Regions from separate parts of the Homo sapiens genome. Here region 1 is linked to region 2. Evidence: fine-mapped expression QTL. A gene starts in region 2. The other region holds a variant in brackets. All regions are shown on one strand. Distances are from middle to middle.

Region 1 (8,940 bases), 58 kb before region 2:
CTTCCTGTGGTTGACAGCCTCAAGAATGTCAGACACTATATAAACCTGCAGGGTGCCCTACTTCCAAGTCCCTACAGACATGGGCCTTTTAAAAGTTGCACAGTGGTGAGAATGTCCAGTTGGAAAGCCTCGTTAGCACAGTGCAGCCCGTCCATGGCTGAAGTCCTGGGCTTATCCTGGACCTGCCCTCATCCTGGACCTGCCCTCCCACGTCCTCCCTCCTGGCTAGCGGCAGCTCCAGCCTTCCAGTCAGGCCCACACCTCACAGTCCCGGGCTTGTCTCTGCATCCTCTATCCAGCCCATCACAGGTCCTGCTGCTTTGCCTTCAGAGAGTGTCCAAGAGTTGACCACTTGTCACCACCCCCACCACTGCCCCCATCCAAGCCACCAACATGGTCCTTTTAGAATGCAAGCCAGGTGCAGTGGCTTATGCCTGTAATCCCAGCACTTTGGGAAGCCAAGGTGGGCAGATCACTTGAGGCTAGGAGTCCAAGAGCAGCCTGGCCAACATGGTGAACCCCATCTCTACTAAAAATACAAAAATTAGCTGGGCATGTTGGTAGGCACCTGTTATCCCAGCTATTTGGAAGGCTGAGGCAGGAGAATCGCTTGAACCCAGCTGCAGTGAGCCAAGATTGCACCATTGCACGCCAGCCTGGGCAACAAGAGCGAAACTCTGTCTCAAAACAAAACAAAACAAAACAAAACGCCAGGCGCAGTGGCTCACGCCTGTAATCCCAGCACTTTGGGAGGCCGAGGCAGGTGGATCACAAGGTCAGGAGATCAAGACCATCCTGACCAACATGGAGAAACCCCATCTCTACTAAAAATACAAAATTAGCTGGGCGTGGTGGCGCATGCCTGTAATCCCAGCTACTCAGGAAGCTGAGGCAGGAGAATTGTTTGAACCTGGGAGGCAGAGGTTGTGGTGAGCTGAGATCGCGTCACTGCACTCCAGCCTGGGCGACAGAGGGAGACTCCGTCTCAAAAAAAAAAAGAATATAAGGCAGACCTTGCCCGGCTCTGACCAACACCCTCCAGGGGCTCCCATCTCATTCAGCCAGAACTGGAGTCCTCAGAATGACTTGCTAAGCCTGCACATCTGACCCCAGCCACCTTCTGACCTCATTGTCTTCTTCTCTCCCTCCCCCACCCTCTCTGCTCAGCCACTCTCTGCCTCAGGCCTTGTTAGCTGTCACCAAGAACCTCTCATGCTAAATGGAATGCCCCTGGGTGACTTTTCCCGCACCCTGGCATCCCCTGCCTCTGGAACACGGCCTCACTCACAGTGGGCTCTGGGGCGCTTGTTGTATGTTAGAAGCTCTCCCTGTTAAGGCCGCTGTGTGGAAGGGGCAGCCACATGGTTGCCTCCTCCACCGTTTCTGTCTGCCTCTGATGGCCCTCCGGCTCCCGACTGCCTGCACAGTCGGGGGGTGGCACAGTGCCTGCAAATCTAAGCCACCCTCTCCCACTCCCTGAGCAGCTCCTAGCCAATGACTGGAAAGCCTGGCACCCTTGCTTTCATCGCAGGCTCTGCTTCTGGGGTACACTCTGAGACAGGAGCTTTCCTCTGTCCTCTCCCGCAAAGAGCCGGTTCAACCTGGGGGTCTGGGACGATGAGGGACTGAGGTGTCTAGATACACTCCCCTGTGCGTGGCCCAGGCTGCATCATCTGCCCCCACTGCCTGGGCCAAGCCCCTGCCCTGGCTTTTCATTCCCTTTGGGAATCTGACACGTTCACGACGCAGGTACACAAGCCTTCCCGGGGCCAGGATGCTGTATACACAAGATAAACGGACTTGGGTCTTAGTCCCATTCCCCTCGGGTCACGCTCCTCCTCCACCCAGGGTGGCTACAGTCATGAACCTGACAGGTGTCCTTCTAGTCCATGCTTTTCTATTTTACCGCACATACACCCAGGAACAACATATGGCATTGCTGTGAGGTCTGAAAATTCATCCCAATGCCATTCTGCAATCTGCTTTGTTCACATTTGCGGGGGGCCAACGTTGGTGGAAATAGGTCTGGTTTAACAGCTGTAACTGCTGCACTGTGCTCCATACGATGAATGGACCGTGGCTTACTGGTCCGTACTCCCTATAATGAATGGACCGTGGCTTACTGGTCCATACTCCCTACAATGAATGGACTGTGGCTTCCTGGTCCATACTCCCTACAATGAATAGACTGTGGCTTCCTGGTCCATACTCCCTACAATGAATAGACTGTGGCTTCCTGGTCCATACTCCCTGTAATGAATGGACCGTGGCTTACTGGTCCGTCTCCCGACAGTGAGGCTGTTTCCAGTTTCTCACAACTGCAGCTGCTCAGCAGCCCTCTGCCCGGAGCACAGCCCCTTCCCCACAGCAGCCTTCCTCCCTGACCCAGAGGCCCATGTCCTCTTCTTTCGGGGCTCTTGCCTCTGTCTGTAATCCTCCAGGTGGGAAGACTCCTAGGTTGAGAGCAGGCTCCCAAGGTCACCACTGCAGCCCCAAGCCCGCTCGGCACCAGGCAGGTACTGAGCCTCTTTTGATTGACAGATGGACGCAAGAGAATAATGGGAGTTGTGCACTAGGCCTTGACCCTGTGCCAGGGACAAGCCAGGATGGCCTGGGAAAGCCCTGGCACTTGGTGCCCAGGGGGCAGAAGAGCAAGCTGTGAATAGCTAGACCTGTCCGTGGGGTGGGCCGAGGCCCTGGGGAACTTCTGGACGTGTCAGCCCAAGTCAGCTGTGACCAGACACAGGGGCTACCAGGAAGAGGTCGCCCCTGCCTCCTAACCTAGCATCGTCACTGGCCTGAGGAGCAGGTCCACTGCTAACAAGTTCACCATCACTTAGGGAGCCCTCCTCACGCCAGGCACTTCACACCTGGAGCAGGCACCAACCCTTTCTAGAAGACACTGAAGGCATGCAGCTAGTAAGTGGCAGAGCAGGATTCCAAAGAGTGCCTGGGTCATCTGGTTCAGAGAAACGGATGCCCACGCACCACACCCACCAGTGTCTCTCTCTCCTGTGGCCTCTGCTAGGCCAGAGCCAGGCTCAAGCCCAGCTCAGCCAACGCACATGCCTGTTTCCTCCTGCCATGACAGAATGGGGCAGCACAGCACAGGCTCCACCTGGGAACTGGCAGGAGACATCTTCCCAGGAACAAGGCCAGGCCCCAGCCCAGCCAGGAGATTGAAGGTGGTTCAAAACACAGCCCATCTACAGAATTCCCCAAACTTTAATGCTGTGCTCTGAAAAGGGAGGCTGGAGGTTGTGGTGGGACACAGTGTTGCTGACACCTCTGGCCTCCAGCCCTGCATCCCTAGGCACCATGTGACCAGGCAGTGAGAAGGACGGGGCCTCACTCCCATGCCAGACTGCTCCTCGGGCTGAGCAGGACCTGAAGCTCTCAGGGCTTCCACCAAAGCCCAGCAAACTTGGGGGAGGCCTGAGGGGGCATCAGCAGTCCTTAAAGGCCTGAGCTTGCAACACTCAGGCAGGACTCGGCTGAGGGCCTCTGTGGTGCCACCATGGGGTAGGAGGTAAAGAGAGACCCTGGTTCCAGCCTGGGAACCAGTGGGTGCCCTGAAGGGAGGGGAGGCCTCAGGGAGTTCGGGACAGGAGTGTGCATGGTACTGGGCGGCCCATGGGGGCTCCTGGCCTCTTGGTTCAGGCAATCCCTGAGCTGGGGACACATTCCATCTTAGGTCCAAGAGACGGAGGTCAGGAGCATCCCTAGAACGACCTCCCAGGCACGAGGAAGGCCCGGGGCAGGGCCGGGCGCAGCGTGGCTGGCTTCAGTACCCTCGGGCATCTTGACTCCTGCCCTCTGGGACTGCAAAGGGATCTGCGGGCGCCTCTGCTGAGTCAATCGTCTGGTAGGCACTACGGTCCTGAGAAGACCCAAGGAAACCTAGGTGACAGGGGACATGGTGGGAAAGAAAAATGAAGGGTGAGAACTCGGGATGTTCAGCTGAGTCCAACCCAAGATCCACCCCCGCCACCCTCGGGCTGGGCATCCTGACACCATGCACAGAGACAGAGGCAGCAGCCCCAGGCCCTAAACCTTTAGCGTGTATTATTCATTCAATCCTGCCGTATCCCTGTGCGACGGGTATTTTTATTGTCCCCACTTTACAGATGAGGAGACTGTGGGTCAAAGGGATGAAGTGACTTGCCCGAGATCACACAGCTCAAAGCTGATGATGCTGGGACCCACGCCTAGGCAGCCGAGTCCAAAGCCAGGCTCCTGGCCCCTGTGCCATGGGCTTCCCCAGGCAGCACGTGCTTAGGAACCTGGGCAGAGGGACATCAGCCCCGGGCCCACGCACTCCTCTCCAGCTCCCCTCCCAGGTACAAGGACACCACATTACCATATCCAGATGGCCTCGGAGGCTGGGGCTGGGTCCAAGGCAGGGCCGTAGGGCTCCGAGTACGCCACATGCCTCACTCCCATCCCCTACTCTGTACATTCATCCCGGGACCCTGAACAAGTCCCAAAGGATGTGGGCCTCAGTTTCCTCATCTGTCCAATGGGAGAAACATTCTGGCACCCCTCACCTGGGGGCAGGCCCAGGCAGTGCTGAGGTCAGCCACTGTGGGCAGCCCCAGGCCATTCCCACCCTCAACCAGCTGGTGGCAGTC[A/C]CAGGCCACGTGGGGCATCTCATCTCAGGAGTGAAAGGCAGAAGGCCACACCCTACCACCTCCCTCCACTCCTCTCAAAGAGAGAGAGAAAGGAAGAGAGAGAGAGGTGTCAGAGAGCAGGCAAATGGCTCGGCCACCAGGAGAAGGAGTACAGGAGTTCAGAGAGGGCGTGGGAGAGGGCAGGTGTAAGGCTGGGTGAGTGGGGAGGGGCCGGTGGGCAGGGAAAGTGCCCCCTGTTCAGGGCTGTCTTCACTGAGGCTCCCACAGCCTACACTGGCACGGGCTCTGCCCTGGCCACCTAGCAGTCTCTGCAGCAGGAGAGGGAAGACCCCATGTGGCAGGAAATGGGGTTCCAGTGATGGGCCCCGGTGAGAACAGAGAGGAGACCTGTAGGTGCCCGTGGCCCTCAGGATGGAGACAGCCCAGGGCTGCCCCTGGGAACTAAATGGTACCCCCAGCTGTGCCTGTGTTCTGGGCTGAGAGAAGGGCCCAGCCTCAGCTTCACAGCAGAAGAAGGTCACGGCAGACCAGGACAACCAGGGGACCCCTGGGCTCCTGCAGCAGAGACTAGGAGCTTGGACCTGTCCAGCCTAGTACAGAGCGCCCATGCCACGCTCTCCCTGCACCTTGAGCCCTGGCCCCATGGGGCAAGGCTGGCTCACTGAGGGAGAGGCTGGAGGCCAGGCAAGGGAGAGAAGGGAGCGGTGAGGAGCTGGCTGGAGGTGGTGGCCTCACCAGTGTGGACCAGGAGCTCACCCCCGCGCTCCCGGTACATGTGGTAGACGAAGCAGCAGGAGAGCGGCTTGAGCAGCAAGCTGAGGATGGCCATGCCCACGCCAAAGCGGCCCGTGTCCGTGAGGCTGACCCGCGGGTAGAAGATGCTGATGTGCACGATGTCCAGGAAGATGGTGGCCAGCAAGCCACCCAGAAACTGCAAGACACACCACACTGATGAGCACAACACCCCCACCACGCTCCGTGGCTCCCCCGCCACACACCGGATGGGAAGCCGTTTCATGCCCTGCTGTGTCCTTGGGGCTTGCGGGAAAATGGATCAAGCAAGCAGGCAGGGCCCCGCTGGGGAGCCGCTGGCTGAGACTGCAGTCTGGGGGCAGGGATGCCGGGGGCCCAGGTCTCGGTTCCACCAGAGCCTCCCTCCCCACCCATTTCCCGTCATCTCCAAGGCCATGATGGGCACAAGACTTGGCTCTAGAACCTCCATAGAGGAAGGTTCCTTGGAGTTCACCCAGTCCTTCTCCAACACAAAGAAAATCTCTTCTCAGTCATCCTGAGGCCCTGGCCTCGGCTTGAAGAGCCCGTGCGGGAGTGCTCACTGCCCCACGGGGCTCCGTGGGTGCTGAGAAGCTCCCCCTGTGGGAGGTTTCGGTGGGGCAGGGTCACCTCTACTTCCTAAAGTAGTGAAATGCCCTCTTGGCCGGGTCTCCCAGCCATATCCCCTCCCCTAAAAGAGAGCCGCAGAGGGAGGTTACAGGGGATGTTCCACTGCTCTTGCGAAGTGGCTAATCCGAGGCACTGGTGGGACCCACCCCATGGCTTTCCTCAGGGAGATAATGGCAGACTTGGGGTTCTCTAAGCCAGACAAGAAGAGCAGCAGGCTGGGCTCCTGAACACAGGCATGGGCCGGAGCCCAGGAGGCTGATGAACAGGCTTTAGACAATGGGAAGTGGTGGCCCAAGGAAGAGGGGGAAGATTGGGATGGGACGGGGTAGCAGAGCCAGGCTATGTCTTGCCCTGTGCTGCGGCTCCCCGCCTTGCCGCCTCTCCCCCACCCTGGCTCACCATGCTTATGGCGTCGATGGAGTCCCGCTGAGCCACAGCCCACACGCCCAAGGCCAGGATGGTGAAGTTGGCCCAGGCATAGGAGCCTGAGAATACAATGCAGCCCCTGTAGGAAGAGGTAGCTCAGTCCCGTCAGGAGGCCACCACCCCGCAGGTCACCTCCCTCCTGCTCCGGCGTCTCAGGGCCTCCTCCCAGAACATGCCATAGTCTTCGAGGCCACCCGGCTGTGTGCCAGCAAATCCCATGGGCTCCGCCTCCCACCCAGACCCTGGATCTGGCTGTGTCCCTGTAGATCCAAAGCACCTCCCTCTCCTGGCAGATGACAGCCGCAGCCACCCTGTGCCAGCGTCCTGACTGCCACTCTGTTCTCTAAACAGCAACCGGTAACGTAGTCAGATGCTGTCACTCCTCTGCTAAAAATCCTCCAACAGTTTTCTGTCCCATTTGGAATAAAATGCAGACTCTTCACCAGGGCCTAAGGGGCCTGTGGGATCCCGGACACAGCCTCGCCCTACTGACCTCCCAGCCACTGCCCTGTGCGGCGGGCGCCCTCTACCCTGACACCTGGCCCTCCTTTTGTCATTCACCCTGAGACTCGAATGTTCACCCTGAGACTCCTTCCCTTGCCCACCGGTGCTAAGTACAAGTTCGTCACTTTCCTAACACAAGGCCCGCCCTATTCTATTTTTAGGGTACTGATACTGACATTGTTGACTTACTTGTCAATCCAATCAAAATCATAGTGAACACCGATCACTTGCTAGTACCTAGCATGGTTCTGTTTTAAATTAACTCATTCATGTACATTTATGTTAATAACCATAGGAAGGAAGTATTATTGTTACCCTCACTTTAGAGATGAGGAAACTGAGACACAATGAGGTTAAGTAACTCGCCCAAGGTCACACAGTTGCTGAGCAGTGGGGCTGGGATTTGGAGTCTGGCTGGAGAGGCCATGCTCTTGCTCACCCTGCTGTGCTGCAAGGAAGACTCAGGGGGACAGGGACTGAGTCTACCTCATTTATTACCAAACCCACTGGGCCTTGCCTTCCCCTGCATGCAGCGGGCGCTTCCTAGATTTATAGGACATTCACTAAAGTGTAACATGCAGAAGACATGTGCAAGGCAGGTGTGGAGTGCCATTCGGTTCAATAGGTCTTTGAATAAACCATCTTATCTTTTGCTTTTAAGAAAGCAGGTGCCTGGGTCCCAGCCCAGAATCACCAACTCAGAATCTTGGGGAAGTGTGACTAAGAAATCTGTATTTTGGCCCTGCTTCTCAAGGTCGTGAATCATGATGGTTACAGTTCACATTACTCACAGCTGTTGCCCTGTGCGCTGCACTTCGAAGTTTGCAAAGTGCACAGGTGAGCTCAATGGTTTCCAGTCTTGGTTTGGCAGAGAAATGTCTCCAGAAGCTCAACAGATTAAAAGAGATGGTAAAGGTGAAAATCAAGCTGCAGTGCTGAGGCCTCACTGTGGGGCAGGCCCTGGGGAGCTCTGATGAGCACTTCCACGTCTCCCTCCCAGCTCCTGCAGGGTGTGCAATCCTTATGCCTATTGTACAGACGGAAATCAAGACCCGGAGAGGCAGAGCTGTCTGGCCCAAAGTGACCTGGTTAAAACACGGCAGAACCAGGACCTGACCCGGCTGACACAGACCCTGAGACCGCAGGAGACACACAAGATACCCACAGAGTCACTTACCAGGTTGTCAGCAGCCAGTGACCTAGGAGAATCACCTGTGGCACAACAAGGGGGAGAGAAGAGGTCTGTGAACATGACCACCACAGGGGCAGGAAAGCGTCGGGTGCAGAAAACACAGGACGCCCCTGCGCCTGGCACCTCTGAGGGCCTCAGTAATGTCTGTTGAAAAGGCACACCAGCAACTGCAGGTGGCCCAGGAGTGAAGGAGGAGGAAGAAAGCAGGCCAGGCCAGGGAGGGGCCGCTTCATGCCTTCACCCCTCCCATGGGGCAGCTGACACCCACACCCCTTCCAAGCGTCAGAGGCGTATGAACCAGAGCAATTCCATCTTGAATAGGAGCTGGGTAAAATAAGGCTGAAACCTAGTGGGCTGCATTCCCAGATGGTTAAGGCATTCTAAGTCACAGGATGAGACAGGAGGTCAGCACAAGGTACAGGTCATAAAGACCTTGCTGACAAAACGGGTTACAGTAAAGAAGCCGGCTAAAACCCACCCAAATCAAGATGGCCACGAGAGTAACCTCTGGTTGTCCTCACTGCTACACTCCCACCAGCACTATGACAGTTTACAAATGCCATGGCAACGTCAGAAAGTTACCCTATATTGTCTAAAAAGGGGAGGCATGAATAATCCACCCCTTGGTTAGCATACTATCAAGAAATAACTATAAAAATGGGCAACCAGCCTGGGCGCGGTGGATCACACCTGTAATCCCAGCATTTTGGGAGGCCGAGGTGGGTGGATCACCTGAGGTCAGGAGTTCAGGACCAGCCTGGCCAACATGGTGAAACCCTGTCTCTA
Region 2 (16,100 bases):
AACATAGTAAGTCCCTGTCTCTAAAAAAAAATTTTTTTAACAAAAATTAAAATAAGTAATTATTATAAACTGGGGCAAAGCAGTGGTCGCACAGAATCTAGGTGGGAGAAGCCAAAGAGAGTTAGTCTGATCGCAAGTAGGGCTTAAAGGTGTGTTGTGTCTGCATAAAATAGAGACATTTTTGATTTGGGGAAAGGCATTCTTGGTGGTGGTGGAGTGCTACACTGCTTATAAAACACTGTTTTGTTGATTTTATGTATTGGGATTACGGATCGAATTTCATTTGGGAAAAGATTTGCACTACTCAAAACATTTCTTTTTGGCAGGGAGTAGGGGAGGAGGACCACTGGGCCATTGGATTAGGTGGTCCCAAAGGCCCTGTCTGCCAAGGGAGCCTGAGAATTTATGATCTATGACGATAAGACTCCTCCATCTGTCTGTCTGTTCAACTGTCAGACCCCTATGGGGAGGGGTGACAGACAATATCCAGTAGGGTGTGGACTGAGTCTCCAGGAGCTAGGGGCAAAATCTTCCCTTCCGGATACTCCCAACCTAGGAGCTCTGTGGGGAGGAATTGTATCCCCAGATTCAGGAGATTTTGTTGAATGCAGGAATCATCTCAGGTTTTATGTCTCTGTAGTTCCAGGAAGATTTTACGATTGCTTTTTTGTTTGTTTGTAGACAGAGTCTTGCTCTGCCCTACAGGCTGGAGTAGTTGTACCATCATAGCTCACTGTAGCCTCAACCTCTCCAGCTCAAGCAATCTTCCTGCCTCAGTCTCCTAAGTAGCTGGGACAACAGCCACAAACCATCATGCCAGGCTAATTTTTTCTTAGTTTTAGTTGAGATGAGGTCTCTCCCTATGTTGCCCAGGCTGGTCTTGAACTTCTGGCCTCAAGTGATCCTCCCACCTTGGCCTCCCAAAGTTCTGGAATTACAGGCGTGAGTCCCGGGCCCAGCAATTGCTTTAACTTGAGATTGATCTGCCCAACTTTTCCCTCTGGCTACTCCTCATCACTCACATGGACACTTCCTGAAACGGCAGGAATTGGAGATGGGCAGTGCAGTCCGGAAGCCCCATCTGCTCTTAGCAGAGTGTGGCCACTCTGCAGTCAGCCCCAGATCTAGTTAGGGCTTCCTGGAGCCCCGGCCCCCTAGGAGCAGACTTCTGTCTTGTTTAGGTGGAGCTGACACCCCTAGGGCTGGAAAGTGGGTAATTTTCTTGTTCAGTCAAAACAGTCATATCCTACATGAGAGTTGGGGAACAACTGTATGGATTCTAAATTAATTCCTGGGCTGAGCTCTTCCCAAGGTAATTTGAAACGAGAGTGTTCTAACCCCCCTCCTGATCCCTCCCAACATCTCCTCCCTTCATGAGTCTATTCCCTTGTCTGTGAAATGGGATTATTAGGCTGCCATGAGACTTGACTACTTAGGAAGTCAGTGCTTCTGTGTGGTTTGTGTGTGGGTGGGTGGTGGTGGTGTTCCGGGTATGGATGGAGCCCGGCAGTGCAGGTGGCATAGAGGATGGGGCGGGTGGGATTCACAGCAGCTGCCCTGCTGGGTGTTCACTGGCATACTGGTGCGTTGATCATCCTGGACTAGTCCCTACCCATCTCCCTGCCTCCCTGTGGCTCTGTATCGCCCAAAGTGTCACCTGACCAATAGGAAGGGGCCTCTCAGCAACCCCTAGGCCTCAGAGCAGCCAGAGCCCCACCTACCCCTCCACGGGTCTTTCTCAGGCACAGAGCTCTGCCTTTTGCTCTGCTGGGGACTGCTGCCTCCTTGCGATGGAGATCGCAGGGGAGAGTGAATCCCGGTGGTCAGCCACTAGCTGAGCCCCTCTGTGTGCAGAACCAGGATGCCAGACAAGGGCACCTGCTCCAGTCTGAAGGGAGAGACCTGGCTTCTGCTCCTGGAAACCACCAGTCTGAGGGCGGACACATAGTCCTGGCTCATTGGGATAGGAGGGAACCAGGTCATGCCTTAGAGGACTCTATGACTATTAGGGGACCTAGCCCATGGCTGCAGAGTGCTTTCAATCTAAGCCAGAAGCAGCCCCTGCCCTGGGGAAGCCTCCCATCTAGCAGGGTAGATACAGTTGCTGTCCTCAGGAATTTGCCAATCTGATAGGAGAGGCACAACTCTGGCCTTGGGAGGGTCCCAGAACATGGAGCTGCTGATCTGCCAGCAAAGACACAGTCCTTGCCTCCAGGTGTCCCCACTGATAAGGGAGACAGTCCGGGTGAGAGGCCACAGGTCTCATTAATGAGAGGTGGAGGCCCAGACATCACTACTACCGATTCCAGCTCACAGATGTCAGCCCAAACCCACTAAGCTGACCCATGGGAGGGCCCTCACTGAGCAAAGCAGAAGGAGCTAGACAACCTGGGCAAGTTTTTTAACCTCTCTGGGCCCCAGTTTCCTCTCTTGTAAAATGTTAGCTGTCATGAGGATTGGGGAGTAAAAGTTGTTTTTTTTTTTTTTTTTAATTATTAAGATGGAATCTCGTTCTGTTGCCCAGGCTGGAGTGCAATGGCACGATCTCGGCTCACTGCAACTTCTGCCTCACGGGCTCAAGTGATTCTTCTGCCTTAGCCTCCCAAGCAGCTGGGATTACAGGCATGCACCACCATGCCTGGCTATTTTGATTTGTTTTGTTTTTGTTTTTTGAGACAGAGTCTTGCTCTGTCACCAGGCTGGAGTGCAGTGGCGCGATCTTGGCTCACTGAAACCAGGAGGCTCATTGCCTCCTGGGTTCAAGCAATTCTTCTGCCTCAGCCTCCCGAGTAGCTGGGACTACAGGTGCACACCACCACGCCCGGCTAATTTTTGCATTTTTAGTACAGACAGAGTTTCACCGTGTTGATTAGGATGTTCTCGATCTCTTGACCTCGTGACCTGCTCGCTTTGGCCTCCCAAAGTGTTTTTTGTTTTGGTTTTTTTGAGACAGATTTTTGCTCTTGTTGCCCAGGCTGGAGTGCGATGGCACAATCTCAGCTAACTGCAACCTCCGCCTCCCAGGTTCAAGCGATTCTCCTGCCTCAGCCTTCCGAGTAACTGGGATTACAGGCTCCCACCACCATGCCCGGCTAATTTTTGTATTTTTAGTAGAGACGGGGTTTTACCACCTTGGCCAGGCTGGTCTCGAACTCCTGACCTCATGATCCGCCTGCCTCTGTCTCCCAAAGTGCTGGGATTACAGGCGTGAGCCACCGCACCCGGCTGGGGAGTAAATGTTTATAAAGTAAATGGGACACAGAAGGGTGAAATAAACAGTAGTTGTTACTATGGGAAGGGGAGACAGAGGGAGTAAGGTGGCAGGCATGGGTGTGGTGGGGGCCAGGGAGTTTCCTGGAAGCATTTGTGCATCTGTGCCTGGGTGTGCAAAGGGGCAGGCGCAGGTGGCTGCGTCCTCTGTCCTCAGTGGGGTGATCGATGGCAGGGCAGGACTGTCCTAGGCCAGCCTGGAGGGGACCATTGTCCTGGCAAATGAGGTTTGGCTTCCCTGCAGGGGCAGCTCCATCTGCTTTTATTGTTTCCGACAGCAGCCTTGGGATTTTCAACCCACCCCAGACCTCACACCTTAAAAACCTGTACAGGGGCTTTGCGGGAGTTCATCAGAGGCCCCACCCATTCAAAGGCCTCCAGCTTCCAGCATTCCCCGCTCACCTGCTGAACTCGAGTCCTACCTCCTGCTAGATTATAGGTACTTGTGGCCCCTCTTCCTCCTCTCCTAGGCAATTTGTGGGTGGGGGAAGCAACCCTCAGCCTCCATATTCCTCAAACTTCATTATCTTGGTACCTAGACCATTTAGCTCTGTGTTTGTTTGGGTATCATCTACTGTTCTAGGTTCTAGGCCCAGAGCTTTATAGGCATTATTTAACTTGACCCTTTGAAGTATATATATATATATATATTTTTTTTTTTGAGACAGAATCTCACTCTGTTGCCCAGGCTGGAGTGCAGTGGTGCAATCTCAGCTCACTGCAGCCTCTGCTCCCTGCAACCTGTGCCTCCTGGGTTCAAGTGATTCTACTACCTCAGCCTCCCAAGTAGCTGGGATTATAGGCGTGCACCACACTTCCCAGCTAATTTTTGTATCTTTTTTTTTTAGTAGAGATAGGGTTGCACCATGTTGGCCAGGCTGGTCTCGAACCCCTGGCCTCAAGTGAGCTAGCTGCCTCGGCCTCCCAAAGTGCTGGGATTATAGGCATAAGCCACTGCACCTGGCCTGAAGTGGATAATATTTTTCAGATGGTAATAGCAACAATGGCTGTGTAGGAACATTAAGACAATGACCAAGGGACTTGCCTAAGATAGCCTAGTAGAGCAAGTGATAGAGCTGGGATTCGAACCCACAGCCATCTGACTCCTCAGACTCATCATCCCTGCTCCATCACATTCCTGGCCGAGACTGCTCCTCATGCTGCCATCCAGTAACCAACACCAGTGCAGCTGCTGTGAGTCCCAGGGAAGGTGGCATGAGCTGGGGCCTGACCCAGAGCCTGGTACACCTGAAAACCATTAAGTCCTGCAATGAGCTCCTTCCAGTTGCTCTGGGTTCTAGCAGGAGCCTCATCCCTCATAACCACCCCTTCAACCCCATCCCATCAAGAGAAGTCTTGGTGTTGGGGCATGGGTGGGTCATGGTGTTGGGGCATGGGGCGTTGTCAAGCTGGAACCTGGGGTGGCAGAGCCTCTACTGGCAAGGATTCAGCCATCCTCCCACAACCTTCTTCTTCTTGGGGACCACTGGCCACAGCGACTCACCCCTGAGAAGGAAGGCTGGAGTAGGGCATGCAGAGAGGGCCAGCGGAGCAAGAGGGAGGCAGCTCCAACCCACTGGGCCAGAACAGGGGTGCTCCTATGACCTGCCCCCCAGGAACATGCTCATGCCTCTGAGGGAAGTTCGGGGAGGCTGGGATGCAAGTCCCTGCTCCATCACATTCCTGGCCGACACACGTGAAGGAACTCCCTCTGGGTCCCACAGCTGCTAAGTGATCAGCTGGGCTTCAAACCCAATCTGCACGGCTGGGGTGAGCCACTTCGTTCTCTGGTCTCAGTTTCTACCCCTATAACAGGCACAGAGACCACCCTCATTTTCCAGAGTGATACAGGGCCTCAGTATCACAGGGGTTTCCGGGCAGCTTGCTCCCCCTCCAACCTCCCCAGCCAGAGGGCCAGCTCCGCCCTGGCCCCACCAGCAGGACCCAGCAGAACTCAGCAAGACACTGGGGCTTGCAGTTTTCAGTTCATTCCTGTGCCTTTGACCAGGAATCACATTCAATATAACAGGTGTGCACAGAGCCCCTACTGCGTGCCAGGCACTGGGACCACAAGCAGAAGGAGACCCAGCCCCCACCCAGGGAGGAGCAGACCCCTCCCAGATAGGGATTATGCCGTGCAGTTCACAAGAGCTAGGGAGGCAAGGGAGTGCCGGGGTGCTTCCCACAGGAGAGGACATCAGACCTCCTTGGTCAGCAAAGACAGAGGGCTGAGATCAAACACAGGGCAGGGCAGAAAGAGCCCTAGCAAAAGCTCAGAGGAGGGCAGACTGTGGAGATGGTCAGTTCTCCATCGTGGCTGCAACCTGGGACGCAGAGGGGACAATGCTGGGAGGCAGGCAGGACAGGGCTAGGCTGGGCTGAGGTCTCTGTAGTTAACTGAGTGGCCACAGTGAGCCACTGAGGACTATGGACTGGGAGGGCGATGAATTGAATAGTGGGGAGGAAGGCAGCGGAGAGAGCAGAGAGGACCTGAGCAAGGTTCCCAAGCCTCTGAGCTGGCTTTGCTGCAGAAGGCAGGGGGTAGAGATGGTATGAAGGGCCGGGTTCACCAAAGTAGGGCCTGTCTGCCAGGTCGGATTTCGAGCAGGAGCCTGGATGGGGGATGTCGTGGGGATATCCAGCCGTTCTTGCCTCTAAAGAGAAAGGTTCCAGTTGCCAGCCCTGGCTGTGGCTGAAATAAGAACTCAGCCAGGGGAGCCTGGAACCTGCCAGCTGGGAGGTTTCCCTCTTCTGAAGTTGCCCTCATTAAGACACTCAGGCCACGTCACTGCCAGACTCCTGGAGTGGTGTGTCACATGTTATGACCACCTAGACAGTGGTCAGGGGGCTTGGGCAAGCACACAGCAGGTCCAGGAGCCAGCAAGACAATCCCCTCAGAGGAAAGGAAGTGGCCTGTGAGCTGGTGCCGCTATTAAAGGCATCAAGCCAAGACTGAGGTTCAGAATTGGGGGTGAGTCACCGGACGCCTTCTGATGGGTGATCAGTTGTTGGCAACACCAGCTCAGCCACACTGATCTCATTTTGAAAAAAAGTGACCCATTGGCCCTGATTGTTTTAGCTGATTTTAGGACAAGCAAAGAGGAGGAGAGAGAGAAAGAGAAGAGTGCTTGCAAGGGTGTGGACGCCTGTATGGGCACGAGGAGGTGAAGGTGACAGGAAGTGTGATGGGGGAAGAGGCTGTGGTGGTGGGGTTACTCTGAAGTGTCTCTAAGCCTTGACTTTGAGATCCATTTCTGTGGAGCCCCCTGTCCCCACCCCATCCCAGGTCTGTAGACTCCCCTCCCCTCCCCTCCCTTCCTCCACAGGGTGTGTGAACCAGCACCAAGCGGCACCCCACAATTTCCACACACATCCCTATAGGTAGGGACTAGCACCATCCCTGTTTTGTGACAGGAACACTGAGGCTCAGAGAGGTGCATTCCTTTGTCCGAGATCACTCCCAGAGCCCCAGTGTACCCGACTCCAGATGCATAGTACTGAACCGGTTCCAGACACCAGTGTGTCACTGGGCTGGGAGGTGGGCAGCGTGGAGGGAGCATATAGGGCAGGGGAGACCACCGGGCGGAGAGGATGGCCCAGGGAGCACCCAGCTGAGGAAAGCAAGAAAGACTTGGCGGGAAACCCCAGCCCTCTCTCATCTCATACCCCGGCCCCGAAGGCGGCTGAGACCCTTGACGAGCGGACGGAGAAAAGCCAAAAGCCGGCGGTGGGGAGCAGGAGGGACAGAGCGGGAGACCACAGGCGAAAGACCAGCGCCGTCGGGGGAGCCAGGCTGAGTACCTTCCTGGGCACAGATGGGACGGCGCGGGGCCACCGGCGGTGCTGGTTCCGGGCGCACTCAGCGACCCCGGCCACACACCCCAGCCTCCTGGGCGGCCTCGAAAGGGGCTGGAGGGCACGCCCGCCAGCTCTGCCCGGGGCTCAGGGAGTCTTCGAAGACTTCTTCCAACGGTGGCGGACTGGGGCCCCCTGCCTGAGAGACCACCCGGAGACTCAGAGACAGAGAGACAAAGGGAGACTGGGTCAGGGAGAGAGAAGGCTAGTGCCGAGGAGAGTAGGTGCGAGCCGGGACCCCAGAGGGCGGCGAGGGCGCGCGCGAGGCCGAGTGTCAGAGCGTGGAAAAGTGGGCGTCCAGCGGTAGGTGGACGGATGGGGAGCCCGGGAGCAGAGCCAGGGTCCGTGGGCAGACGCGGCGAGGAGAGGAGGCGGCGGAAGGACTGGCGGATAGACGGGTCCGAGGGCTGGGAAGGAGGCAGCATCCTCACTTCCAGCCTCGGGACCCCGCGCACCCCGCCCCTGGGCGCGCCAGGTAGCCCACCTTTGTCCGGGCTCGCAGCCAGGTGGGGCGGGAGGGGCGGAGCCAGGGGCGGGCCGAGGCCGTGCCTTACCTGTCCGGCCGGCGGGTAGGGGGAGGAGGGGCTCGGGGCCGAGCGCCCGCGGGAGCCGAGCGCAGCCGAGGGCGAGCCGCGGAACGGGGCCGGCGTGGAGAGGTGCGCGGGCAGCCGGAGGATGTGCCCGGGCTGAGCGGGACTGGAAGGAAGGGGGAGTGGGCGGGCAGGAGGGAAGGGGGCGGGAGCGCGGGGAGGGGACAGAGGAGGGGCGGCGGGTGGCGGGCTCGACTGCCCCCAGCCGAGGGGCAGCCCCGGGGCCGGGCCCGGCGCGCACCCGGCCAGCGCGCCCTCGCCAGCTGCGCTCTGAGTTCTGGGCCAGCTCCCCAGAGGCCTAGGCGCCGCCGCCGCGAGGGCGCGGGGCAGACAAAGGAGGCAGACAAAGGCGGGCGCAGCCCAGCAGCCGTGCGGGCACCGGGCGAGGCAGGCCCACTCCTCCCGGTGCGTAAGAGCCGCCTCGGCGCGGCCCAGGGCGCGTGGGACGGGAGGGGCTCCGGCAGTTGTGGCGCCTCTGGAGCGGCCCCGCGCAGGGCGGGCGACAAAGGGCCGCGGCGGGCGGTCCTCGGTGGACCCCAACAATGGAGCGAGGCTGCGCGCTCAGCTGCGGCCGCGTCTGTCAGGGCAGGGGCCCGGGGCCACAAAAGGATTATTCCGCCTAGACTGTCAAAAGGGACGGAAGAAATGCCCAGGGCGGGGGAGGCGGGACGGGGAACGGCGGGGCCTTTGTAGCCGCAGAAAGTGCGCAGAGTGGGCAGGCGGGGTTCTCCGAGAGGTCGCTCCTGGATGTAGGGGTACAAAGGGTCTTCAAAGTGCTACCAGCTCACCTGGGGCGCTGACGGCGCACCTGTGCCCTCTTTCCCGGTAGGGAAGGGAGAAAGACAACCGCCCCAATACACACACACACAAACACACACACACACACACTCACACGCGGCGCGGCTCTCGCCACGCCCCGTCCAAAGCCGGCCTGAAGCTTCTCAGACCGGCCCAACCCGGACAAAGCCAGCGCTGGGGCCGGCTCATCCATCACCGCGCGGGGCGCCGTGTCCTGACGACCCTGGGAGTCTGAGAATGCTGGGTTATGGGTCCCGTGCCTCCCATAACTCACGACGGGGTCGGTGGGGCCACGGACGCTGCAAAGATCAAAGAGCGATGGGGCCGGACTCCCATATGTGGGAAGCAGCGCTCCCACCTGGCGCCCTGAGCTCGCCAGGTGGCTTCCATTTCGACTGTTTTCTTTCTCCAGCGTGTGGCAAATTATGACTTTGAGGTTTTAGAACACAGTTCTGCCGTCAGGCTAAATGTCTGTGTTCCTCTTCTGATGCCGTCCCCTATGACCTCGAGCAAGTCGCCTGACCTCTGAGCTCATGATTATACCTAAATTTCAGTGTTCTAGGCGTGAATGCAGTGCCCTGTGTAAGGAGATAACGTTTCTAAGGTCTGGCCCATAGGAAATGCTCCTGTAAAATTAGCTGCCATTGTTACCGTGATATTATTAGCTTGGTGGGCACCAGGATGGATTGATGAGAACACTGAACTGTTTATTCACTGAAAGGTTTGAGTCATCCATCCCATAAATACCTATTGAACACCTACTATGTGCCGGCACCGGAGGTACAGTAGTAAACAACATGGACAAGAATCCCTGCCCCCATGGAGCTCAGATTCTAGTGAAGGAGACAGAAGATAAGTGAACAAATAAATATAAATGATGTCAGGTGGTGATTAGTGCTATGAAGAAAAGTAAAGCACATTACAGACAAAGCATGAAGGGACGAGGTGTTGTTTTACATAAAGTTATTAGGAAAGGCCTCTTTGCTGGGGCAGTTCTTTTGGCAAAGAAAAGGAGGTAATGAGCCACGTGGTTGTGGGGAGAAGACTTGCAAGCAGAAGAGCCACTGCAAAGGTCCTGGAGCGGGAGTGTGCTTGGTGTGTTTGGTGGAGAAGAGTCAGTCTGGAACAGAGTGAGGTGACATCAGACAGGGAGCTGGGATAGGACCATGTTGTTACAGGAAAGGGGTCCTGACCCAGACCTCAGGAGAGGGTTCTTGGATCTCGCACAAGAAATAATTCAGGGCGAGTCCATAGAGTAAAAAGTTTATTAAGACAGTAGAGGAATAAAAAGAATGACTACTCCATAGACAGCACAGCACCAAGGGTTGCTGGTTGCCCATTTTTATGGTTATTTCCTGATGATGTGCTAAACAAAGGGTGGATTATTCATGCTTCTCCCCTCCCCCCGCCTTTTGTTTTTCTTTTTGAGAGGGAGTCTTGCTCTCACCCAGGCTGGAGTGCAGTGGCACAATCTCAGCTCACTGCAACCTCCACCTCCCGGGTTCAAGCAATTCTCCTGCCTCAGCCTCCCGAGTAGCTGGGATTACAGGTGCACACCACCATGCCCGCTAACTTTGTGTTTTCAGTAGAGATGGGGTTTCACCATGTTGGCCAGGCCGGTCTTGAACTCCTGACCTCAGGTGATCCACCTGTCTCAGCCTCCCAAAGTGCTGGGATTACAGGCTCGAGCTACAGCACCCAGCCTTTTTTTTTTTTTTTTTTTTTTTGAGACAGAGTCTCACTTTGTTGCCCAGGCTTGTATAGTGGCACAGTCTCGGCTCACTGCAACTTCTGCCTCCCAGGTTCAAGCGATTCATGCCTCAGCCTCCCAGTTAGCTGGGGTTACAGGCACACACCGCCATGCTCAGCTAATTTTTTGTATTTTTAGTAGAGACAGGGTTTCGCCATGTTGCCCAGGCGGGTCTCGAACTCCTGACCCCAGGCAATCTGCCTGCCTTGGCCTCCCAAAGTGCTAGGGTTACAGGGGTAAGCCAGTGTGCCTGGCCTTTGCTTCCCCTTTTTAGACCATATAGGGTAACGTCCTGATGTTGCCATGGCATTTGTAAACTGCCATGGCACTGGTGGGAGTGGAGCAGTGAGGATGACCAGAGGTTGGTCTCGTGGCCATCTTGCTTTTGGTGGGTTTTGACAGGCTTCCTTACTGCAAACTGTTTTATCAGCAAGGTCTTTATGACCTGTATCTTGTGCTGATCTCCTGTCTCATACTGTGACTTAGAATGCCTTAGCCATCTGGGAATATGGCCCAGCAAGTCCCAACCCCATTTGACCCAGCCCCTACTCAAGATGGGGTTGCTCTGGTTCAGACACCTCTAACAATGTGAGCCTGCAAAGGCCACAGGGAGGACTTGAGCTTTTTAGAGGGACCATGAGCAGAGCAGAGACATGATCCGACTTAGGTTTTTAGCAGGTTTGCTGATTGCTTTTTCTTTTTTTTTTTTGAGATGCAGTCTTGCTCTGTTGTCCAGGCTGGAGTGCAGTGGCGCGATCTTGGCTCACTGCAACCTCTGCCTCCCAAGTTCAAGCGATTCGCCTGCCTCAGCTTCCTGAGTAGCTGTGACTACAGGCACCTGCCACCATGCCTGGCTAATTTTTTGTATTTTTAGTAGAGACAGAGTTTCCCCATGTTAGCCAGGATGGTCTCGATATCCTGACCTCAGGTGATTCGCCAGCCTCGGCCTCCCAAAGTTCTGGGATTACAGGCATGAGCCACCGTGCCCGGCCACGTGTGCTGATTCCTAAGGTTGGGAGTAGTCTGCAGTGGGACAAGGGTGAAAGCAAGAGACCAGCTAAGTACTGTGGCAGAGAAGAGATGATGGTCACCTGGGCCTGGGAGAGGGGGCAGTGTGCAGCCAGCATGATTTGCGTCGCCAAGGATAGAGCTGTGGGCCAGTATTCATGAGCCAGGAGAAAAACCTTGGAGTCTCTGGTTCAAATGCTGCTACTGTGGCTGTCCCCTGGCTGGGTGATCTTCCGATGTGCTTGGAGCTGGGGTGACACAATATGAAAAGGTGGATGTTAGGAGAGGCCTGGACTCCTATCCCATCCAGTTTATGATGACTTTAGGGCCTCAGTTTCCTTGTCTGTAAAATGAGGTACTTGAGGGGCCAAAGCAGGCTCCAATATTCATCAACTGATGACTGGATAAGCAGATGTGGTCTATCCATACACGGGAGTATTTTGGTTCTACGAAGGAATGAAGTATCAATATGTGATTCGACCTGGATGAATCTTGAAAACATTATGCTAAGTGGAACAAGCCAGACATAAAAGACCATATTTTGTACAATTACTTTTATATGGAATGTTCCGTATTGGCAAGTCCAGGTCAGGCGCAGTGGCTCATGCCTGTAATCCTAGCACTTTGAGAGGGTGAGGCAGGAGGACCTCTTGAAGCCAGGAGTTGGAGACCAGCCTGGCAACATAGTGAGACCCCTTCTCTACAGAAAATTTTAAAAATTAGTCTGGGCGTGGTGGCTCATGCCTGTCATCCCAACACTTTGGGAGGCCAAGGTAGGTGGGTCACCTGAGGTCAGGAGTTCGAGACCAGCCTGGCCAATATGGCAAAACCTCATGTCTACTAAAAATTTAAAAATTAGCCAAGCGTGATGGAGGTCGCCTGTAGTCCCAGCTACTCGGGAGGCTGAGGCAGGAGAATCGCTTGAATCGGGGAGGCAGAGATTTCATTGAGCCGAGATTGCACCACCGCCCTCCAGCCTGGGTGGCAGAGAGAGACTCCGTCTCAAAAAAGAAATAAATGAAATAAAAATTAGCTGGGTGTGATGGTGCACACCTGTAGCCCCAGCTATTGGGGAGGCTGAGGTGGGAGGATCGCTTGAGCCCAGGAGGTTGAGGCTTCAGTGAGCTGTGATTGCGTCACTGCACTCCAGCCTAGATGACAGAGTGAGACCCTGTCTCCAAAAAATAAAATAAAAAAATAAAAAAATTGGACAATCCATAGAACAGAAAGTAGATTAGTAGTTTTGGAACTGATGTACCTGGCAACACACTTTGGGCATGAACAACCCTTCTCAAGACATCAGGAGTGATGAAAATGTTCCGAATTAGAGAGTAGCGATGTACAACATTGTAACTATACTAAAAATCACTGAATTGTACCCAGGGAAAATGTGAACTTTATGGTTTGTGAATTATATCTCCACAGAGAAGTTTTTTTTTTTTTTTTTTTTTTTTAAAGTGGCAGTTGAGCTGGATCAAAAGTTCTTACCTTGTGGCCCAGGATGGCTTCTGAATATATCTGGACACTCCTGATGTTGTGTAAGGCATTTAGTGTCTCTGGGCCGGGCGCAGTGGCTCAAGCCTGTAATCCCAACACTTTGGCAGGTGGAGGCGGGCACATCACTTGGGGTCAGGAGTTCGAGGCCAGCCTGGCCAACATGGCGAAACCCCGTCTGTACTAAAAGTACAAAAAAATTAGCTAGGCGCGGTGGCTTATGCCAGTAATCCCAGAGCTTTGGGAGGCTGAAGCAGGAACTCTGGAGGCCAAATGTTCAAGACCAGCCTGGGTAACACAGCGAGACCCTGTCTCTATGAAAAAAGAGCAGATGATCAGTAAGGTCCCCCTGACCACTGAGGGGTCAGCAACACTGGGAATCAGTAGAACCCCACGGAGGGAATGGCAGGTGAGGGCTTTGCTCTGGCTGAAGTGTCGGAAGCCATCTCAGGTCAGCAGTGAACCCTGGGATCTGGGACAGCTGTCCAGGTCAGGCCTCACACCAGAAGGCAGATGAGAGCGGAGAGGAGCTGTCAGCAGGAAGTCCTTGTCTTTAGGCATCTTGTTCCGTGATGATGCGTGTCCTCCCTAGGGCACCTTGGGAGTTGCCTGCTGCCTTGGGAAATGGAAATGGAGCTATGGGGATGCCGCTAAGGATGGTTTGGATGGGGTTTTGAAAAGTGTGACAGCTTGTCCAGAGGGTTTGTTCTGGGGGCTTAAATAGTGTATATAGACCTTAATATCATTGTCATAACAGTCATTAATTGAGCATTTATGTGCCAGGCATTGTGCACTTTATTTATTTGTTTATTTTTTGAGACAGGGTCTCACTTTATAACCCAGGTTGGAGTGCAGTGGTACAAACATGGCTCACTGCAGCGTTGATTTCCTGGGCTCAAGTGATCCTCCCACCTCAGCCCCCTAAGTAGCTGGGAATACAGGTGCACGCCACCATGCTCAGCTAATTTTTATATTTTTTGTAGAGTTTTTGCCATGTTGCCCAGGCTGGTCTCGAAGTCCTGAGCTCAAGTGGTCCGTCCACCTTGGCCTCCCAAAAAGCTGGGATTATAGGCGTGAGCCACCATGCCTGGCATTGTGCACTTTATATTTTTTATAAACATGAACATGGACATAAACATTTGCTCTTTGCTCAATCCTATGAAATTAGAACTACCATTATGCCATTTTACAGATGAGCAAACTGAGGTTCAGAGAAAGAAGGGCCTCGCAGCTGGTTAAGGGGCAGTGTTGGGGAGAGAAGCAGCAGGTTGGACACATGAGCAGGCCCAGTGGGTGCTGGGGACACCATAGGGAACATGCCACAGCCCTTGCTTTTGTTTTTGAAAATAGCTTTTCTCTGCATAGTGCCACCCATAGCCCGGGCACTGAAGTCGACGTGTTTTGCTCCTCATCCAGACTCAGTTGGGATTCAAGTCAGGCAAGTGGTAATGAGCCACTGTCCACCATCACTTCATTCCTCTGCCATTCATTCTTTCATTCACTCATTTGACACACATTTGCTGAGAACCTGAATTCGGGCTGGGCATGGTGGCTCAAGCCTGTAATCTCAGCATTTTGCGAGGGTGAGAGGCAGGAGGATCACTTGAGCCCAGGAGTTCGAGACCAGCCTAGGCAACATGGGGAGACCCTGCCTCTGCAAAAAATTTGAAAAATCAGCCAGGTGTGGTGGTGCACACCTGTAATCCTAGCTACTCAAGAGGCTGAGGTAGGAGGATCCCTTGAGCCCAGGAGTTTCAGGCTGCAGTGAGCTATGATTGCCCCACTGCACTCTAGCCTGGGTGACAAGGAGAGACCCTGTCTCTGGGAAAAAAAAAAAAAGAGAGAGAGAGAGAGAACCTGAATTTGGCCAGGCACTATATTGAAATAATGAATGAGGGCTGGGTCCCTGCCCCGGAGCATTGCAACTGGATGGGCCCCTGAGCGTCAGGATATCAGGAGATTGTCACCAGGCTATGTGTGTCTCACTCTGTATGTCCCCCATACCCATGTGATTGGTGTCCTGGGAACCTTAGGCAGGGTGGGAGAGCTGATTCATTCTGCCATCAGCCTGGTGGGGATGGGAGGGGTCTTGGAATCATTTCTGGGGTCTGGAAACTTCATTGCCCGGTTCACTCACTGTGGGTTTGTTCCATAAACCCCAGCAGTCCTCCTCTGCCCGAGCAGGTCTTCCTCTTTGCTGGGCTGGTGCTCACAGCTCACCTTCTCAGTTTCCATTTCAGTGTCTCTTGGGAGTGATTTTCCCTCCGTCCCCATCAGAGATCCTCAGGGACCTGCTCTAGTTGGCAAATAAACTCTTGCTCCCCCTAAACACCCATCCTTCCTTCCCAGCCGCCCTCCTACATATTGTCATTATGGTGAAAAATATGCAAATAACTTTGAACAACAGTCTCCCAGCAGACGGATGTTCAAAAATGTAATAAATTAACCCCATAATGTAATCTGGATCCCACAACCATCCATCATGCTGATGCGATTAAGATATGCAAAACCAGATGCTGAAGAGCGCATGGATGGAGTGTTGGCAGAGCTCCCCGGATGGGCCCATGCTGACTCGGCCCCCTGCCCCTGCCCCCGCCCCCATGGAACCTGAGGCCATCAGAGGTTTAGGGAACATCTATCTGGCCTGTTCATTTCACTAATGAGACTGAAGCCTTTTAGGGGTTTGGGGTCAGATGGGTTTGAATCCCTCCCCATCTGCTTCCTAACCCACCTTCCTTCTGTTTGTGATTGGATCTGAACCCAAGGCCCCAAACCCAGACTTTTTTTGTTTTTTTGAGATGGAGTTCTCGCTCTTGTTGCCCAGGCTGGAGTGCAATGGTGCGATCTTGGCTCACCACAACCTCCGCCTCCCGGGTTCAAGTGACTGTCCTGCCTCAGCCTCCTGAGTAGCTGGGATTACAGGCATGCGCCACCACACCTGGCTAATTTTGTATTTTTAGTAGAGATGGGGTTTCTCCATGTTGGTCAGGTTGATCTCAAACTCCTGACCTCAGGTGATCCACCAGCCTCAGCCTCCCAAAGTGCTGGGATTACAGGCGTGAGCCACCCACCGTGCCCAGCTGACGTTTTTTTTTAATTGCAATAATTTTTGGTTACATGGGTAAGTTATTTAGTGGTGACTGCTGAGATTTTGGTGCATCCATCACCTCAGCAGTGTACACTGTACCCAGTATGTAGTCTTTTGTCCCTCACCTTCCCACCCTTCCCTCACCTTCCCACCCTTCCTTCCCCCCGAGTCCCCAAAGTCCAATATATCATTCCTATGCCTTTGCATCCTCATAGGTTAACTCCCACTTACAAGTGAGAACATATGA

Evidence for each region.
Region 1: its variant is fine-mapped to the expression of DRAXIN in whole blood (TOPMed, PIP above 0.99).

Annotation. Positions count from the first base shown.
Region 1 is chr1:11,745,037-11,753,976 of GRCh38, reverse strand. It overlaps AGTRAP (angiotensin II receptor associated protein), which reads right to left. Exons shown (of 5, transcript NM_020350.5): 2 at 8,140-8,174; 3 at 6,432-6,537; 4 at 5,367-5,562; 5 at 3,208-3,900. The coding sequence ends at 3,785. Among named protein-coding and RNA genes, the nearest start is that of C1orf167, 13 kb to the left of the region's middle. RefSeq lists enhancers at 4,439-5,115, 5,116-5,792. The variant A/C (reference allele first, on the strand shown) is at 4,632.
Region 2 is chr1:11,683,433-11,699,532 of GRCh38, reverse strand. DRAXIN (dorsal inhibitory axon guidance protein) reads right to left here and starts at 7,823. Exons shown (of 7, transcript NM_198545.4): 1 at 7,680-7,823. It also overlaps a transcript of MAD2L2 not described here. RefSeq lists enhancers at 8,508-9,015, 9,016-9,525, 14,389-14,889, 15,839-16,100.